Linked DNA regions of Homo sapiens. The protein of the gene in region 1 binds, or shares a complex with, the protein of each later gene. Each region holds a gene or a part of one and is shown in the gene's direction. Other genes may lie near its edges.

The links.
Region 2: the proteins of PTPN18 (region 1) and ERBB2 are in contact, whole or in part, in a crystal structure (PDB 4NND), measured with the Homo sapiens proteins. Residues at the interface, in NP_055184.2 of Homo sapiens: Arg61, Tyr62, Lys63, Asp64, Val65, Arg138, Asp197 (codon at 6,536), Arg198 (codon at 6,539), Ser230 (codon at 6,635), Ala231 (codon at 7,004), Gly232 (codon at 7,007), Cys233 (codon at 7,010), Gly234 (codon at 7,013), Arg235 (codon at 7,016), Arg268 (codon at 7,196), Ala273 (codon at 7,211), Gln276 (codon at 7,220); in NP_004439.2 of Homo sapiens: Leu1109, Gln1110, Arg1111, Tyr1112, Ser1113, Glu1114.

The regions. Positions count from the first base shown.
Region 1 is NC_000002.12:130,363,555-130,373,228, forward strand, and holds part of PTPN18 (tyrosine-protein phosphatase non-receptor type 18), read left to right. Parts: intron 1-5,578; coding exon 5,579-5,647; intron 5,648-6,210; coding exon 6,211-6,273; intron 6,274-6,493; coding exon 6,494-6,636; intron 6,637-7,002; coding exon 7,003-7,069; intron 7,070-7,150; coding exon 7,151-7,228; intron 7,229-7,320; coding exon 7,321-7,410; intron 7,411-7,644; coding exon 7,645-7,733; intron 7,734-8,702; coding exon 8,703-8,929; intron 8,930-9,318; coding exon 9,319-9,393; intron 9,394-9,602; coding exon 9,603-9,670; 3' UTR 9,671-9,674. UniProt on the Homo sapiens protein: Differentially dephosphorylate autophosphorylated tyrosine kinases which are known to be overexpressed in tumor tissues.
Region 2 is NC_000017.11:39,715,277-39,724,950, forward strand, and holds part of ERBB2 (receptor tyrosine-protein kinase erbB-2 isoform a precursor), read left to right. Parts: intron 1-9; coding exon 10-83; intron 84-169; coding exon 170-260; intron 261-442; coding exon of another isoform or gene 443-463; coding exon 464-663; intron 664-994; coding exon of another isoform or gene 995-1,024; coding exon 1,025-1,157; intron 1,158-1,238; coding exon 1,239-1,329; intron 1,330-1,790; coding exon of another isoform or gene 1,791-1,892; intron 1,893-2,043; coding exon 2,044-2,204; coding exon of another isoform or gene 2,205-2,208; exon of another isoform or gene 2,209-2,381; intron 2,382-4,510; coding exon 4,511-4,558; intron 4,559-8,042; coding exon 8,043-8,181; intron 8,182-8,261; coding exon 8,262-8,384; intron 8,385-8,635; coding exon 8,636-8,734; intron 8,735-9,449; coding exon 9,450-9,635; intron 9,636-9,674. UniProt on the Homo sapiens protein: Protein tyrosine kinase that is part of several cell surface receptor complexes, but that apparently needs a coreceptor for ligand binding. Essential component of a neuregulin-receptor complex, although neuregulins do not interact with it alone.

The DNA.
Region 1 (9,674 bases):
TTTGCTTACTTTGGACATTTCATATAATTGAATCACATAATATGTAGCCTTTTTTTGCTTAGCATTTTTGTTTTGTTTTGTTTTGTTTGCTGAATACTATTCCATTGAATGGATCTACCACATTTTACTTATTGGTTGACAGAAATTGGGTTCTTTCTACTTTTTGGCTATTATGAACAGTGCTGCTATCAACACTGATATACAAGTCTCTGTGTAGATGTGGGTTTTCATGTCTCTTGGGTATTGCTGGGAATTGCTGGGCTATATGGAAACTCTATTTTTAACATTTTGAGGAAGTGCCAAACTGTTTTCCACAGTGGCAGCATCATTTTACATTTCCACGGCAATGTTTGAGGGTCCCCATTTCTTCTCCCTGATGCTTGTTACTGTCTTTTTTTTTTTTTTAATTATAGCCATCCTAGGGGTTGTGAAGTGGTATGCCATTGTGTCTTTCTTTAAATTATGTGGTAAAATATACATAACATAAAATTTGCCAGTTTATAGGTGCTGTGAGGAATGTTAAAAATAATTTTGCCATTTAAACCATTTCAAGTGTACAATTCAATTGAATTAAGTACATTCACAATGGATTAACCATTCCTACTGTCTATTTTCAGAACATGTTCATCATCCCAAACAGAAATTCTGTATTCATTAAACAATAACTCCCCATTCCCCCATTTCCAGGTAACCTCTATTCTCCTTTCTGTCCCTATGAATTTGCCTATTCTAGGTACCTCATGCAAGTGGAATCAGGAATACACTAATATACAATACTTGTCCTTTTTTCAAGGTTCATCCATGTTGCAGTGTGTATCAGAATTTCACTGTTTTCAAGGCCAAATAATATTTCATTGTATGTATATATCACATTTTGTTTATCCATTCGCCTGTTGGACATCTGGGTTGTTTGTACCTTTTGACTATTGTAAATAAGGCGGCTACAAACATTGGTATACAGGCTGGACACAGTGGCTCACGCCTGTAATCCCAGCACTTTGGGAGGCCGAAGCAGGCAGATCACGAGGTCAGGAGATCGAGACCAGCCTGGCTAACACGATGAAATCCCACCTCTACTAAAAATACAAAAAATTAGCCAGGCGTGGTGGCAGCCGCCTGTAGTCCCAGCTACTCGGGAGGCTGAGGCAAGAGAATGGTGTGAACCCATGAGGCGGAGCTTGCAGTGAGCCGAGATCGCACCACCGCACTCCAGCCTGGGCGACAGAGCGAGACTCCGTCTCAAAACAACAACAACAACAACAACAAAAAATTGGTATACTAGTATCTGTTTGAATCCCTGTTTTCAGTTCCCTGGGTATACACCTAGCATGGAATTGCTGGATCATATGATAACGCTATGTTCAACATTTTGTTTTCCACAGTGGCTGTACCATTTTACGTTCCCATCAGCAGAGAGAGAGAGAGGGAGGGAGGGACATGTGTAGTTTAATGACAGGGATATGGTCTGCATTGTTAAGACTATCTTGTCATTGTGTAAACATCATAGAGTATACTTACACAAACATAGATAGTATATACATTTTTTATTTATATATTTTTCATATGGAAAACCAAATGTCCCAGCACCATTACTGAGTATCAATCATTTCCCCAACTTAATATGCAGTGTCAATATCAAGTGCCATGTATCAGGTTTCTACATATGCTCCATTATAATCTATGGCACCACCATTGTATATGTGGTCTGTTGTTAACCAAAACATCATTATGTGGCATATGACAATGACATATATGCCATCCTAATGAGTGGGAAGTGGTACCTCATTGTGGTTTTGGTTTTCATGTGCTTATTCGTCCATTTGTATATCTTCTCTGGCCAAATGTCTATTCATGTCATTTATTCATTTTAAAATTGGGCTATTTGGGGTTGTCTTTTTATTATTGAGTTGTAAGCGTTATTCTGTATATAAGTCCCTTATCAGTACATGATTTAAAATGTCTTTCCCATTCTGTGGGTTGTCATTCCACTTTCTTGATGGTGTGTTTTGAAGCACAAACATTTTGTGAAACTTTAATTCCAATCTATTGTGTTGCTGTGCTTTTGGTGTATCTGAGAAGTCATTGTCTAATCAGAGGTCATAAAGACTTACTCCTGTTCTTCCTTCTAAGTGTTTTATAGTTTTCTTGCTTACAGTTAGGTCTCAGATTTACTTTGAATGAACTTTTGTATGTGATGTGAGATAGGGGTCCACATTCACTCTTTTGCATGTGACTATCCAGTTGTTCCAGCACCATTTGTTGAAAAGACTATGCTTTGCCCATTGAACCGTCTTGGCCCCTTTGTTGAAAATTAATTGGCCATAAATATAAGGGTTTATTTCTGAACTCTCAATTTTATTAAGCTGATTGATGTGTTTATCCTTGTGCCAGTGTAACATAGTTTTGATTATTATACCTTTGTAGAAGTTCTGAAATCAGGAAGTATGAGTCTTCCAAATTTGTTCTTTTTTCCAAGATTGTTTTGGCTATTTTGGGTAGGTCCCCTGCTGTGCAGAAGAGTTAAACATGGCAAGCATAAATGTTTATGCTTAGAAAGGCCTTCCTGTAAGGTTGACTCTTGGGTGGCCTCTAGAAACCTAGGTTTCTGATAACAGTGGCTCACTATGCCTGAACTGTTAATACAAACAATATGCTTTATGCAGAACACCTGTTCTCCTGCTGGTAGTCTGACATTTTGGTACAGGCTAGGCAGAGTGTGCCTACATTCTGTGCAGACGGTGCCCCAATAAAAATCCTGGGCACTGAGTTTCTAATGAACTTTTTTATGAAACGCTGTTGAGTTTTGTCAAATTTTGTTCTTTGCATCTATTCAGATGATCGTGTGTTTTGTATTCTACTAATATGGTGTATGACATTGACTTTCATATGTTGAACCAATCTTGCATTCCTGGAATTAATCCCACTTAGTCATGGTGTTTAATACTTTGCTAGTACTTCATTGAGAATTTTTGTGTCTATGTTTGTGAGATATTGGTTAGTAGTTTTCTTTTCTTGTGATGTCTTTGGTTTTGGTGCCAGGGTAATACTAGCCTCATACAATATGTTGGGAAATGGTTCCTCTCAGTTTTTTGCAAGAGTTTGTGAAAGGCTGGTATTAATTCCTCTTTGTTTGATAAAATTCACTAGATTATCTTTTAAAGATGTTTAAAATGAAATATCTTTTACATTTAGCCACTTACTTTTCTCCCTGTTATTTTGTGTAGATCTGTATTTCCATTTGTATCACGTTCCTTTTGTATGCAGAGCTTACTTATTCTATTTATTTAAGAGATAGGGTCTCACTCTGTCATACAGGCTGGAGTGCAGTGTGCAGTCACCACTCACTGCAGCCTCAAACTCCTGGGCTTAAGCAATCCTCCCACCTCAGCCTGCCAAGTAGTTGGGAGTACAGGTGTGCCACTGCACTCAGCTAACTAAAAAAGATTTTTTTTAGATACAGGCTAGCTATGTTGCCAACACACCTAGCTAATTTTAATTTTTTTTTTTTTTTTTTTTTTTTTTTTAAGATACAGGCTATGTTGCTCAGGCTGGTGTTGAAGTGGCCTCAAGCAATCCTCCTGCCTTAGCCTCTCAAATAGCTGGAGCAGCCACTGTCTGTAAGCATCTGAAGAGCTTACTCTAATATTTCTCATAATGCAGATTTGTTTGTGATGAATTCCCTCAGCTTTCATTTGTCTGAAAAGGTTTTCAGCATTTTTAGGATATCATAGCATTGACTTGCCGTTTCTGACAAAATGTTGCTATAATTCTTAACTTTGTTCCTCAGTATGTGATGTGTCCTTTTGTGCATAATGCTTTTAAGATTTTCTCTTCTGGGGCCTGGTGTGGTGGCTCATGCCTGTAATCCCAGCACTTTGGGAGGCCAAGGTAGGTGTATCACTTGAGGTCAGGAGTTCGAGACCAGCCCGGCCAACCTGGTGAAACCCTGTCTCTACTAAAAATACAAAAAAAGGTTGGACATGGTGGTGTGTGTCTGTAATCCCAGCTACTCAGGAGCCTGAGGCAGGAGAATCGCTTGAACCTGGGAGTTGCAGGTTGCAGTGAGCCGAGATTGAGCCACTGCACGCCAAGCCTGGGTGACAGAGCAAGGGTCTCAAAAAAAAATTTTTTTTTCTCTTCTTCATTCTTTTTCAGTAATTTGATCATGATCTGCCTTGGCGTGACTTTCTTTAGGTTTAGGTTTATTCTCCCTCTGGTTCATTGACTTTCTTGGATTTGTGGGTTCATAGTTTCATCGAATTTGGGAAAATTTTCACCTATTATTTCTTTACATAAAGTTTCTGTTATCCCCCTTTCTCCTTTCCTTCTGGACTCCACGTGCACATACACTAGACTGGTATATTTCTACAGAGAACTGATTCTTTTTCATTTTTTTCATTTCATTTTGAATTATTTATATTGCTATGTTTTCATGTCTATTGATCCTTTCTTCTAGTGTCTACCCTGCTATTAGTGGATTTTTCATTTCATATATTTTATTTTTCCTCTTTATAAATTCCATTCAGGTTATTTTTTGTATCTTTCATTCCACTCTGCATCATGTTCATGTTTTCCTTTTCATCTTTGAGTGTATTTGTAATAGCCATTTTAAGATTTTTGCTTCTTTCCTGAACTGTTATTTCTGGGCCCTTTCCTATTGACTAATTTTTCTCCTGGTTATGGGTCACACTTTCCTGCTTCTTTGTATGTCCAGCAAAATTTTATTGGATGCTTGATATTTTGAATTTTGCACAGGTAAGTGTTGGATTGTTTTCTTTAGAGTGTTTTGCCTTTTCAGGAACTTTTGGATGGTTGATCAAGTAGCCTTTGTTCTAGAATTAATTTAGCCGTACTTCTAATGTGTGGTCATTCTAGGTTCCCTACTAAATGCCCCTTATAGTTGATAATGCCTCTACACTCTAGCTAGAGGGAATGTGAATTCTTTCTCATCATGAGCTCAAGGAAATGTTCATCCTACAGATCCCTACTATTCTTTCATGGTAAGTTATTCTTGCCTGGCCTCATGGGGTTTCATGTTGTATATATTCAGATTATTCAACCAAAGAATCAAGGAGGGGACTTCTATGCAAGTTATTGTTTTGTTTTTATTTGCATACCTCTGTTCCTTCCAGGACTCTGCCCTGCAAATTCTAGCTGCTTTTGCCTCCTTGAGCCATGGTCTCTGGCTCAACTCAGTGGGATCATTAGACTCATGTCTTACAGCCTGGTGACACTTCCATGCAATAAGCCGGAGTGGTCTGTTCAGTGACCACAGTACTGCAACACCTGCCAACCAGTGTCTGAAAATAGTGGCTCATGTATTTTGTCCAGTTTCTAGTTGCTTACAGTGGGAGGGTATCCTGGACTGTATTTCCCCTGCATGGTCAGCAGCGCACCTCCATTGAGTCTGCATGTGTTTAATCTGATGGCTCTGTTGGCTGGCGTCTGTTATAGGTTATAAGTATAGCTGCCTGTGCTTCCACCACGAGCACCTGGGGTGTCTTGTGGCATGATTGAGCTAGCTCTGAAGCTGACTCCCTCTTCTCACTCCCTGCCTTTTCTCCCTTACCTTTTGCAGAAAAGGTGTGAGCGGTACTGGGCCCAGGAGCAGGAGCCACTGCAGACTGGGCTTTTCTGCATCACTCTGGTGAGCTGTGGGAGTTTTCAAGGAAGATTCCCAGGGTGGAAAGGCTTTGGGTTGGGCCTAAAAGGTTGAATGATTTAACCCACAGTCCACTCATACTGCAGGAAACCCTCTGGTGTTAGCCTGCAAATAGTTAGAACTTACTATAGGGATAGCCTTTGCATTTTTATTTTGGCTACAATCAGTTAATCTCTGTCATGTAAATGTGCCTGGTTAGGTTGTTGAAATTCTTACTTCTCTTACCATTTCAAAAGAGCTTGGGGAACTCTCTCAAGTCATACATACAGTTAGTACTTAATAAATGCAATAAAAGTTTCATTTTAGAACAAAAGACATCTCTTTTCATTGCAAAAGGGCTTGTGTTTTTATAATAGTTCCTCTTTTGCTCCTGTGTCAAATGTTTCCTTAATGAAAGCTTTGGGGAAAGTTTGGGCTATATGAATTTTTAAAATGTTTTCTGTATTTGATTTTTTAATCAGGAATGCTTTGCTTTCTATAAATGTCTTCTGGTACCTATGATCTTTGTTCTCCTCCCTCTTCTTACTTGCCCCACCCCCCTTACTCAGATAAAGGAGAAGTGGCTGAATGAGGACATCATGCTCAGGACCCTCAAGGTCACATTCCAGAAGGTACTGTGACAGGGGAGGAGGAGGTAAAGGGGCTCCTGAAAGGGGAGAGGTTTCCTCTCCTGTAAAAATGGGCATCATACTAGTACCCACTTCCTCAGTTATTGTCTGGTAGACATAAATGGAAGATGCCTAGAAGTGGGCCTGGTGTATAGTAGATGGCCAATTAATGCTTTTTTCTTTTTTTTCCTAAGTCTTTTGCTCATCTTTTTCTGTGTTTCAGGAGTCCCGTTCTGTGTACCAGCTACAGTATATGTCCTGGCCAGACCGTGGGGTCCCCAGCAGTCCTGACCACATGCTCGCCATGGTGGAGGAAGCCCGTCGCCTCCAGGGATCTGGCCCTGAACCCCTCTGTGTCCACTGCAGGTTTTGGAAATGGGCTTCAGGAGGGTCTGGTGAGGCAGAGGGGACAGAGCATGGAGGGGAGTACAGGGCATGGGGCTAGTCTTGTAGTCTGAGTGCCTATTTTGAGAACCCTTGCTCACCCTCCATGGACTGTAATTGTGAGCACTTGTTCAGCACAGACTCAGCTGGGGAATAAGCACACAGCTCTTGCTCAACAAAATGTAAGTGATTAAAAAGGTTTTCCTTGTTCAGATATAATCTGAAGATTCTGGGAATCAAGAGGCTCTGCAGGGGATCCATCAGGACCCTCACCCCCATCCCCAAATGCCCCATCTAAAAGGGGTTGTGGTCAGGACCTGACCAGGCACACTCTGATTCTCTTGTCAGTGCGGGTTGTGGGCGAACAGGCGTCCTGTGCACCGTGGATTATGTGAGGCAGCTGCTCCTGACCCAGGTACGATACAGGCATCCTGTGTGTGCAGTGTGCTGCCCATGACCACGTGTCCTGCTCAAGTGCCTTGTCTGTCTGCCCCAGATGATCCCACCTGACTTCAGTCTCTTTGATGTGGTCCTTAAGATGAGGAAGCAGCGGCCTGCGGCCGTGCAGACAGAGGTGAACCCTGGGTCTCCTAATCTTCAGGGACAGTGGCCCACTGCTGTCATTTGCCCCTGCCTTCCCTTCTTGATGGTCCCTCACCCCAACAGGAGCAGTACAGGTTCCTGTACCACACGGTGGCTCAGATGTTCTGCTCCACACTCCAGAATGCCAGCCCCCACTACCAGAACATCAAAGAGGTACAGAGGCTCCTTTCCCACTCTCCTGTCCACCATCAGCACCCTCAGAGACCAGGACCCCGAGCAGGGTCCAGCCCCCGGGACTACTGGGAGCAGGCACTGACTATGACATCCACCTGTGCCCTCCTCCAGGCATCCTTATCAGGCTCTCCCATCTTAAGCTTTCTCCCAGAGCCCCTTGAGAGGCCTGGCCAGCTTCCTCCCTCAGGAGCCTCCCCTCCTGTTTTTCTTCAGAATTGTGCCCCACTCTACGACGATGCCCTCTTCCTCCGGACTCCCCAGGCACTTCTCGCCATACCCCGCCCACCAGGAGGGGTCCTCAGGTACCCGGCTCCATCCCCGGATTCTTCCCTGCCCAATTTCTCAGGCTAACCCCTTCTTCATCCTTGGAACACCAGTCCGTTCCTTGTTCACTTCGCCAAGTGTTCGCTGGCCCTTTCTTCGAATTGAGCTCTGGGAACCCACCCCAAGATGATTCAATTATCCCAAGATGATTCATTTACCCCTTGCCTCTGCCTCTAAGGCTTGCCCTGCCTTCTGAGTTAGGCCTTTCCTGGATCCTCTAATCAAACCTTAATTCAGGTGGCTCACCCCTGTAATCCCAGCACTTCGGGAGGCCAAGGAGGGCGGATCACTTGAGCCCAGCTGGAGACCAGCCTGGTTAACATGGTGAAACCCTGTCTCTACTAAAAATACAAAAATTAGCCAGGCGTGCTGGTGAGAGCCTGTAATCCCAGCTACTCCGGAGGCTGAGGCAGGAGAGTCGCTTGAGCCCGGGAGGTGGAGGTTGCAGTAAGCCGAGATCGCACCACGGCAGTCCAGCCTGGGCGACAGAGCGAGATCCTGTCTCAAAAAAACAACAAAAAAAATTCAGCAAATAATTCTAGACGCCGCCTTCTTGTCAGGCCGCACGTTGGGTGCTGCGGACATGGGATTGAGCCGCCTTCGCAGCGGAGACTTAAGGCCCTTGTCCTTGCGGCCATCCCTTCCTGTCTTCTATGCCACTTCCGCATTCTTTTGTTCAGTAGACGTTGACACAGAAATGACCACCCCTCAAACCAACACTCTGCCCCAAATTACCCTCCAGGCTGACCCCGTTCCTCCTTCATCCCCCTAACTTGCAGGGCGCTAGGGACACAGAAGCGAGGCCTCCAACCCAAGGAGCCCTCCCTCCCATCTAGCGCACCGCCTCGGCGGGAAGGAAGCCCGTGGTTTGCGCGCTGAGCAGCCTCCCCACTCCCGCCCTGCCCAGCGCCGCCGTTTCACTTCCTCCCGGCCCTCCCTGCCTGCAGGAGCATCTCTGTGCCCGGGTCCCCGGGCCACGCCATGGCTGACACCTACGCGGTGGTGCAGAAGCGCGGGGCTCCAGCGGGCGCCGGGAGTGGGACGCAGACGGGGACGGGGACGGGGACGGGGGCGCGCAGCGCGGAGGAGGCGCCGCTCTACAGCAAGGTGACGCCGCGCGCCCAGCGACCCGGGGCGCACGCGGAGGACGCGAGGGGGACGCTGCCTGGCCGCGGTGAGTCGAGGCTTGCTCCTTCTCAGGGCATCATCCTGCTGTGATCCGCAGGGCGGAACCATCCTGCAGTGGTCCGTCAGGCCCTGGCGGCCGCGGGGACCCCAGCCGCTAGCCTGGCCACGCCCCGACGCTGATGTCCAGGCGTCCCTGGCCACGCCCCGGAAGCGCCCCCTGGCGGTCGCAGTCGCGGTCCAGGGGCAGGGTTCCTGGCAATACTTGTCTTGGCCGCGCCCAAAGGCTGGAGGCCACGTCCGGGGTGTGTGCCTTCTCCCGCCCGGCGCCCTCGGCTCTCCCCTTCGGGCCTCCGGGGAAGCGTCCCCGCTAGGGGTGGGGTCTTGGGACTCCCTGGGGCTTCCGGAGCTGACCCGTGGGGGGTCTGCTGCCCTCAGTTCCTGCTGACCAAAGTCCTGCCGGATCTGGCGCCTACGAGGACGTGGCGGGTGGAGCTCAGACCGGTGGGCTAGGTAAGTCAGGTAGAGCCTGGGTTGCTGGGACTTTGCTGCTTTGAGTGAACCCAGGAGTCTGGGGTTGATGGGGCATGGAGCTTAGTCCTGTGGATGTGGCTGCAGTGAACCAGGAGGACCTGGAGGCGGGGGGATGGCCTTCTTCATGTCTGCCAGCTTCCACACACCTCAGCTTCTCCATGAGACCCACGGCACCCTTCTTCTCCCAGGTTTCAACCTGCGCATTGGGAGGCCGAAGGGTCCCCGGGACCCGCCTGCTGAGTGGACCCGGGTGTAAGTCT
Region 2 (9,674 bases), on another chromosome or scaffold:
CCCCTCCAGGGACCCAGCCTCCAACACTGCCCCGCTCCAGCCAGAGCAGCTCCAAGTGTTTGAGACTCTGGAAGAGATCACAGGTGGGCTCTGTCTCTGCATCCTGTTCTGCAGGGGCTGGGAGTCCTTGTCCTGTCCCCACTCCTTTAATCTCACCCTCTGCCTGCAGGTTACCTATACATCTCAGCATGGCCGGACAGCCTGCCTGACCTCAGCGTCTTCCAGAACCTGCAAGTAATCCGGGGACGAATTCTGCACAAGTGAGCACTGAGAAAGAGGGGGCCTGATGGGGAGGAGTCCCAGGGAGGAGTCCCTGTGGGAAGCTTTGGGCCTGAGGGAGTACTCCTGTAGCAGTAACCTTTCCATGAAAGTCTGCAGAGTGTGCTGGGGATGGAGGAAGATGAGAATAGCCTTTGCTGACCGGGAAGGGGTCCGTGGTAAGGTGCCCACCTTTCTCCCATAGTGGCGCCTACTCGCTGACCCTGCAAGGGCTGGGCATCAGCTGGCTGGGGCTGCGCTCACTGAGGGAACTGGGCAGTGGACTGGCCCTCATCCACCATAACACCCACCTCTGCTTCGTGCACACGGTGCCCTGGGACCAGCTCTTTCGGAACCCGCACCAAGCTCTGCTCCACACTGCCAACCGGCCAGAGGACGAGTGTGGTAAGACAGGGAGCCCAGTGTGCGCACTCCCCATCTGCCAGCACACAGCAGTGCCCAGGGGGCCCTGGCAGCAGCGTTCTTGGACTTGTGCAGACTGCCCGTCTCTGTGCACCCTTCTTGACTCAGCACAGCTCTGGCTGGCTTGGCCTCTTGGCATGGCTTCTCTAGCTGGGTCCTACCTGCCTTGGCATCCTTCCCTCCCCCTCTGTTTCTGAAATCTCAGAACTCTTCCTCTCCCTACATCGGCCCCACCTGTCCCCACCCCTCCAGCCCACAGCCATGCCCACAGCCAGTTCCCTGGTTCACTTGGACCTGGGGCCTCCCCTAAAAGTCCCCTGCGGTCCCTTCCTCCTCACTGCAGTGGGCGAGGGCCTGGCCTGCCACCAGCTGTGCGCCCGAGGGCACTGCTGGGGTCCAGGGCCCACCCAGTGTGTCAACTGCAGCCAGTTCCTTCGGGGCCAGGAGTGCGTGGAGGAATGCCGAGTACTGCAGGGGTATGAGGGGCGGAGGAGAGGGTGGCTGGAGGGGTGCATGGGGCTCCTCTCAGACCCCCTCACCACTGTCCCTTCTCTCAGGCTCCCCAGGGAGTATGTGAATGCCAGGCACTGTTTGCCGTGCCACCCTGAGTGTCAGCCCCAGAATGGCTCAGTGACCTGTTTTGGACCGGTGAGCTGCTGGCGGGCTCAGAGCTGGGTGGAGGGGGGCAGCGAGGGGGATTGCCAGGGACTTGGCAGGATGGCGAGATGCAGTAGGGTGTGCTATCTGGTAAAATATCCCTGGAGAGGGCTCAGCGCTCAGACCTGAACAGCAACAGAGTGGCAGAAAAGGGGCCTGGGGGACACTGGGGCCCTTCAGACTATGAAAAGGTTCTAAGGAGGTCTGTGTTGGTGGCTGTGACTGTGGCTGTGCTAGGGTGGTGAGCCCTGTGGGCTCAGGCGTCAGACTACCTGGATTCAGACCCAGCTCCTGCTTCCAACCTTGGTTTTTTATTCCTAAAATGGGTATTGTAATAATACCTACCTTGCTGGGGTGTGGCAAGAATGAAATTAAACAGGGCTTGGCACAGTGAAGCACGGGAAAGGCTTTCTACAGAGCAGTGACTGTTGTTACTCGCTGTTACACCTTAGGTAATGCGTTTTCCTCTCTGGGTGCCTCCCATTTTCTGGCTCAAGTCCCTGCCCAGGATCAAGCTTGGAGGAGGGCCCCGAGGGAGGGGCCACAGAGACTGGGTGAAGAGCAAGGGTGTTTGTCCCAGGAGCATGGCGAAAATTGCTGCTGGGTGGCCTTGGGAAGCACAAAGGGGACCCAACTAAGGGCCTGATCCTACTGCCCTGGGGGTGTCAGTGCCAGCCCCCCACAAATCTTTTCTGCCCCCCCCAGGAGGCTGACCAGTGTGTGGCCTGTGCCCACTATAAGGACCCTCCCTTCTGCGTGGCCCGCTGCCCCAGCGGTGTGAAACCTGACCTCTCCTACATGCCCATCTGGAAGTTTCCAGATGAGGAGGGCGCATGCCAGCCTTGCCCCATCAACTGCACCCACTCGTGAGTCCAACGGTCTTTTCTGCAGAAAGGAGGACTTTCCTTTCAGGGGTCTTTCTGGGGCTCTTACTATAAAAGGGGACCAACTCTCCCTTTGTCATATCTTGTTTCTGATGACAAAAATAACACATTGTTAAAATTGTAAAATTAAAACATGAAATATAAATTAATGCCCTAGCAGTTCTATCCCCACTGTTAATAATTTGAAATATTTTTCCTCTAGTTATTTTTGTCTGTGCACATTCTAATATGTATATATAAGTTAACATATATTAATATTATTCTCCAGTTATTTTTATCTGTGCACATTTTAACACACACACACACACACACACACACACACATATGTATTTTTAGACGGAGTTTCACTCTGTCGCCCAGGCTGGAGTGCAGTAGTACAATCTTGGCTCACTGCAGCCTCCACCTCCTGGGTTTAAGCAATTCTCCTGCTTCCGCCTCCTGAGTAGCTGGGATTACGGGAACGTGCTACCTTGCCTGGCTAATTTTTGTATTTTTAGTACATAGGATTTCACCATGTTGGCCAGGCTGGTCTCGAACCCCTGACCTCAGGTGATCTGCCAGCCTCGGTCCCCCAAAGTGTTGGGATTACAGCGGTGAGCCACCATGCCCAGTCATATATTTCTTTTTAACAAATAGAATCATAGATCATACATATTGTTTGCAAATTGCTTTTTCTCACTTTCCAGAACCTTGAAATGTTTTTCCATGTTCTAACATGGTGATCTACCTTATTCTTTTAATTTTTCTTATTTAGTTGTCTTTACACATGAAACACATGAATACATCCTTGTGATAAACATTTTCAGTAACATAAAAGTATAAATGTTACAAAGCCAACGTGCCCTTTCACTCAACTCCCTGTCCACCCAGTCTCTCCTGTCTGCTGGGAGAACCACCGCATTGACTTGTGTGTTCACCCTTCCAGGCTCTTTTCTGCACACTTATATAGACATACTACATTTATATTAGGTCGAGTCAAATAAGATTGCTGTTTGTGTAAACCAAAAAGTGTCAAGAGCCTGGGCGCAGTGACTCACACCTGTAATCCCAGCACTTTGGGAGGCTGAGGCAGGCAGATCACTTGAGATCAGGAGTTCGAGACCAATCTGGCCAACATAGCGAGACCCCGTCTCTACTAAAAATACAAAAACTAGCCAGGTGTGGTGATGCTGTTCTGCACTTTGCTTTCCCCCCGACTTGAGGTATCCTTTCTTGTGAGTACAGACGGATCTACCACCTTTATTTTTTTTTTAATTACTCAACCTGTAACATGGATGTAATTTCACTTTGTTTTTGAGGGATATTGAGCTTGTTTCCCTGTTTTTGCAGTTTATTGCAATTGAGCTCCACACACAAGTGAGCCCTCTTTTGTATGCCCCCTAGTGGGAATACAGTGCTGGCAATGTTTATCACAAGGATATATTCATGCATTTCAATTTAAAGACAACTAAATGAGAAAAATTAAAAGAATATGGATCCAGGCTGGGCATGGTGGCTCACGCCTGTAATCCCAGCACTTTGGGAGGCCGAGGCAGGCAGATCACCTGAGGTCAGGAGTTCAAGACCAGCCTGGCCAACATGGCAAAACCCCGTCTCTACTAAAAATACAAAAATTAGCCAGGCGTGGTGGTGGGCGCCTGTAATCCCAGCTATTTGAGAGGTTGAGACAGGAGAATTGCTTGAACCTGGGCAGCGGAGGTTGCAGTGAGACGAGATTGCACCAGTGCACTCCAACCTGGGCAACACAGTGCAACTCCTTCTCAAGAAAAAAAAGAAAAAAAAAAAGAATATGGGTCCAGATCCATATGGATCCTAGATCCAGATCACGGTGTTAGAACATGGAAAAACATTGCAAGATTCTGCTAAGTGAAAAAAGCATTTGCAAACAGTATGTACAGTCTATATTCAGAGGAGGAACTGCTGGGTCATAGATGATATTTCATAGGTATTGCCAAACCGTTCTCTGGAGAAGTGGTATGGGTTTACCCTGGGATTCTTCTATGGAGGGAATAGTTGAGCTCCCGGGCTTGCTCTTCTGGGTGCCCCTCCCCGCTTCCTATCCACCACAAGGAGCTGCAGGGGAGCGGGGCATGCCGGTTCCTTGGCTGGAGAAGGAGTCTCCTTGTGAGGTGGTAGAAGGAGCACTGACGGCCTTGAGCCCAGTTTCTGCCTTTGTCAAATGGGGATAATGACCCAGCCACACCCCTCCCAGGGTTGTTGTGAGGCTGGAAAGGTGGTTCCCAAGAGGGTGGTTCCCAGAATTGTTGATGAGACTGTTTCTCCTGCAGCTGTGTGGACCTGGATGACAAGGGCTGCCCCGCCGAGCAGAGAGCCAGGTTGGCCTGGACCCCAGGATGTACCCTTCATTGCCCTTCACTCCCCCACTGGATGCTGGGTGGTCACTGCTGTAGGGAGGGGACCCCCTGACATATGTCCCTTCCCACCCACTCTTCCACTGTGGAACCTCCTGTCATTTTCCACTTCACCAAGTGACAGAGGACCTGCTCAGATGCTGAGGGGAGGGGACTGCAAGGAAAGATGGCTAGGAAACCCAGTCCCTCCACACCCTAGAGTAACTTGATGCCTTGTGAGGGACACAGGCAAAGTTCAATTCCTTGGAAGTCAAGGGAGACTGAGAAGAGTACAGCTGCAGCACTGAGGGAGTGATGAATTCTTAACTGGGGATGGTGGGAGGCTTCGAGTGGGAGGTGGCATTTGAGCTAGGCTTTGAGAGAGGAGCAGGTATTGCACTTGCATTTAGGTAGAAAGCATTGGGGTGCAAGGTGACACTGGAGGGGGAGGCATCAGGAAATCCAGGATGTCTTCAAAGTTCTGGTGTCGGGGGCTGTTGAGTAAGCACAGGAATAAGGGGGTCAAGTTAGAGTCAGGGTGGGGTCTGACCTGGATGCCATAGGACCTGATCCCCAAGCCACAGGGTGGGACTTGACTGGGCAGTGGGGACCTTTGGAAAGGACTTTGGGGAGAAAAACAGACTGGAGTCTGTCTTAGGCGATCATCGGTCCGTGAAATGAGCATGTGTTACAGGCTTGGTATGTACCAGACCCTGTGCTAAGCAAGGGGGTATGGAGAGGAGAGGGTGACAAGAATATTGGATCAACACCCGGGAGCTCCATCTATCCCAGGATGCACTATCTTTTTTTTATTTTTTTGAGACGGAGTCTCACTCTGCCTGCAGGCTGGAGTGCAGTGGCTCCATCTCGGTTCACTGCAACCTCTGCCTCCTGGGTTCAAGCGCTTCTTGTGCCTCAGCCTCCCAAGTAGCTGGGATTACAGGCACATGCCACCACACCCAGCTAATTTTTGTATTTTTAGTAGAGACGGGGTTTCACCATGTTGGCCAGGATGGTCTCGATCTCTTGACCTCAAGATCCGCCCACCTTGGCCTCCCAAAGTGCTGGGATTACAGACATGAGCCACCGTGCCCAGCCAGATACGCTATCTTTTTATTGAGTGATTGAGACAGGGTCTTGCTCTCTTGTCCAGTCTTGAATGTGGTGGTGTAATCACAGGCTCACTGCAGCCTTGACCTCCTGGGCTCAAGTTACCCTTCTGCAGTAGCTGGGACTATAGGAGCGTGCCACCACGCCTGGGTAATTTAAAAAATTTTTTTTGTATAGACAGGGTCTCACTATGTTGCCCGAGCTGGTCTCAAACTCGTGGGCTCAAGTGATCCTCCAGTTTTGGCCTCCCAAAATGTTGGGATCACAGGAGTGAGCCACCACTCCTGGCGATGAGCCAAGTCTTTTTTTTTTTTTTTTTTTTTTGATATGGAGTCTTGCTCTGTTGCCCAGGCTGGAGTGCAATGACACGATCTTGGCTCACTGCAACCTCTGCCTCCCAGGTTCAAGCAGTTCAAGCAATCCTCCTGTCTCAGCCCCCCAGTAGCTGGGATTACAGGCATGCGCTACCACGTCCGGCTAATTTTTGTATTTTTAGTAGAGATGAGGTTTTGCCATGTTGGCCAGGCTGGTCTTGAACTGCTGACCTCAGGTGATCCACCTGCCTCGGCCTCCCAAAGTGCTGGGATTACAGGTGTGAGCCATCGTGCCTGGCGGAGCCGAGTCTTAAAAGATGACCCTGTGGAGAAATGGTGGTCCAGGCTGAAGGGACAGCCTATGCAAACACTGGGAGGTGTGGAAAATCATGACCTGTGGGTGGAAATTTTGGCTAGAACATCAAAATCATCAGGTGTACATTCCTGTACCCATGCAGCAGTCAGAATCTCTGGGGGTGGGGCCCCAAAATTGTATGCATACAGACTGTGTGCTGATTTGTGATATTACTTAGGATTTTTTGACTTTACAATGGTGGAAAAGCAATAATATACATTCAGTATAAACCGTACTTTGAATACCCATACAGCCATTCTGTTTTTCACTTTTATTTTTATTTATTTATTTATTTATTATTTATTTTGAGATGTCATTTTGCTGTTGTTACCCAGGCTGGAGTGCAATGGCGCAGTCTTGGCTCACCGCAACCTCCACCTCTCAGGTTCAAACGATTCTCCTGCTTCAGCCTCCAGAGTGGCTGGGATTACAGGCAGGCACCACCACACCCGGCTAATTTTGTATTTTTAGTAGAGACGGGGTTTCTCCATGTTAGTCAGGCTGGTCTCGAACTCGAGAGCTCAGGTGATCTGCCCATCTCAGCCTCAAGCCACCATGCCCAGCCCTACTTTCAGTATTCAATAAATTACATAGCCAGGCACCGTGGCTCACACCTGTAATCCCAGCACTTTAGGAGGCCAAGGTGGGAGGATCCTTTGAGGCCAGAAGCTCGAGACCAGCCTGGGCAACATAGTGAGACCCCATTTCTACAAAAAATAAAAAAACTAGCTGAGTGTGGTGGCGTGTGTCTGTAGTCCCAGCTACTTGGGCAGCTGAGGTGGAAAGACTGCTTGAGCCCAGAGGTCAGGGCTGCAGTGGGCCATGATCTCACCACTGCACTCAGCCTGGGCAACACAGCAAGGCCCTGTCTCAAAAATAAATAAATAAATAACACAAACTTATTTAACAGTTTACTATAAAATAGGCTTTGTGTCAGATGATTCTGCCCAACTGTAAGCTGCTGGCAGTGTAAATGTTCTGAGCACGTGTAAGCCAGGCTAGGTGTCTTAAATGCATTTTCAGTTTCAACTTAGAATTGGTTTATCAGGACGTAGCCCCTTGGTGTTGAGGGGCATGTGTATTAACAGTCTCCTTAGTGACTTTTTTTTTTTTGAGATGGAGTCTTGCACTGGCCGTAGTGCAGTGGCACAATCTCAGCTCACTGCAACCTCTTGTCTCCCGGGTTCAAGCGATTCTCCTGCCTCAGTCTCCCAAGTAGCTGGGATTACAGGCACCCACACCACGCCCAGCTAATTTTTGTGTGTGTGTATTTTTAGTAGAGACGGGGGTTTCACTATGTTGGCCAGGCTGGTCTCGAACTCCTGACCTTGTGATCTGCCCACCTCAGACTCTCAAAGTGCTAGGATTCCAGGCATGAGCCACCGCGCCCAGAGTCCTTAGTGATTTTTACACCATGAATTGTTGAAGCCCTAAGCCAGAGCCAAGGGCAAGAGTATAGAGAATCTGGAGATGCGGAGAGGGTTCTGATTGCCTACAAGGAGTTTGGACTTTATTGTGGAGGCAGCGGGGAGCCAAGGCAGGTTTTAGAGTAGGAGAGGGTCCAAGCCTGTGGGTCACCCTTCCGACTTCCCTTTCCGAATGCCAAACACCTTCATGTCCCCCGTGGGCCCCCTTTGTCCCTCCCACCCCAAACTAGCCCTCAATCCCTGACCCTGGCTTCCGCCCCCAGCCCTCTGACGTCCATCATCTCTGCGGTGGTTGGCATTCTGCTGGTCGTGGTCTTGGGGGTGGTCTTTGGGATCCTCATCAAGCGACGGCAGCAGAAGATCCGGAAGTACACGATGCGGAGACTGCTGCAGGAAACGGAGGTGAGGCGGGGTGAAGTCCTCCCAGCCCGCGTGGGGTCTGCACCGGCCCCCGGCACTGACCCACCACCCCCTCACCCCAGCTGGTGGAGCCGCTGACACCTAGCGGAGCGATGCCCAACCAGGCGCAGATGCGGATCCTGAAAGAGACGGAGCTGAGGAAGGTGAAGGTGCTTGGATCTGGCGCTTTTGGCACAGTCTACAAGGTCAGGGCCAGGTCCTGGGGTGGGCGGCCCCAGAGGATGGGGGCGGTGCCTGGAGGGGTGTGGTCGGCAGTTCTGATGGGAGGGGCAAGAGCTGGAGGCAGTGTTTGGGGGAGGGCAGTTACAGCGGAGAAGGGAGCGGGGCCAAGCCCTAGGGTGGTGAAGGATGTTTGGAGGACAAGTAATGATCTCCTGGAAGGCAGGTAGGATCCAGCCCACGCTCTTCTCACTCATATCCTCCTCTTTCTGCCCAGGGCATCTGGATCCCTGATGGGGAGAATGTGAAAATTCCAGTGGCCATCAAAGTGTTGAGGGAAAACACATCCCCCAAAGCCAACAAAGAAATCTTAGACGTAAGCCCCTCCACCCTCTCCTGCTAGGAGGACAGGAAGGACCCCATGGCTGCAGGTCTGGGCTCTGGTCTCTCTTCATTGGGGTTTGGGGAGATATGACTCCCGCAAACCTAGACTATTTTTTTGGAGACGGAGTCTTGCTCTGTCACCCAGGCTGGAGTGCAGTGGCGTTATCTCGGCTCACTGCAACCTCCACCTCCTGGACTCAAGCGATTTTCATGCCTCAGGCTCCTGAGTAGCTGGGATTACAAGCGCCCGCTAATTTTTTTTTTTTTTTTGAGACAGAGTCTCGCTCTGTCACCCAGGCTAGAGTGAAATGGTGCGGTCTCAGCTCAGCCTCCCAGGTTAAAGCGATTCTTCTCCCTCAGTCTCCTGAGTAGCTGGGATTACAGGCGCGAGCCACCACGCCCGGCTAATTTTTGTATTTTTAGTAGAGATGGGATTTCACCATGTTGGCCAGGTTGGTGTCAAACTCCTGACCTCATGATCCGCCCGCCTCGGCCTCCCAAAGTGCTGGGATTACAGGTGTGAGCCACCGTGCCCGGCCTAATCTTTGTATTTTTAGTAGAGACAGGGTTTCACCATGTTGTCCAGGCTGGTACTTTGAGCCTTCACAGGCTGTGGGCCATGGCTGTGGTTTGTGATGGTTGGGAGGCTGTGTGGTGTTTGGGGGTGTGTGGTCTCCCATACCCTCTCAGCGTACCCTTGTCCCCAGGAAGCATACGTGATGGCTGGTGTGGGCTCCCCATATGTCTCCCGCCTTCTGGGCATCTGCCTGACATCCACGGTGCAGCTGGTGACACAGCTTATGCCCTATGGCTGCCTCTTAGACCATGTCCGGGAAAACCGCGGACGCCTGGGCTCCCAGGACCTGCTGAACTGGTGTATGCAGATTGCCAAGGTATGCACCTGGGCTCTTTGCAGGTCTCTCCGGAGCAAA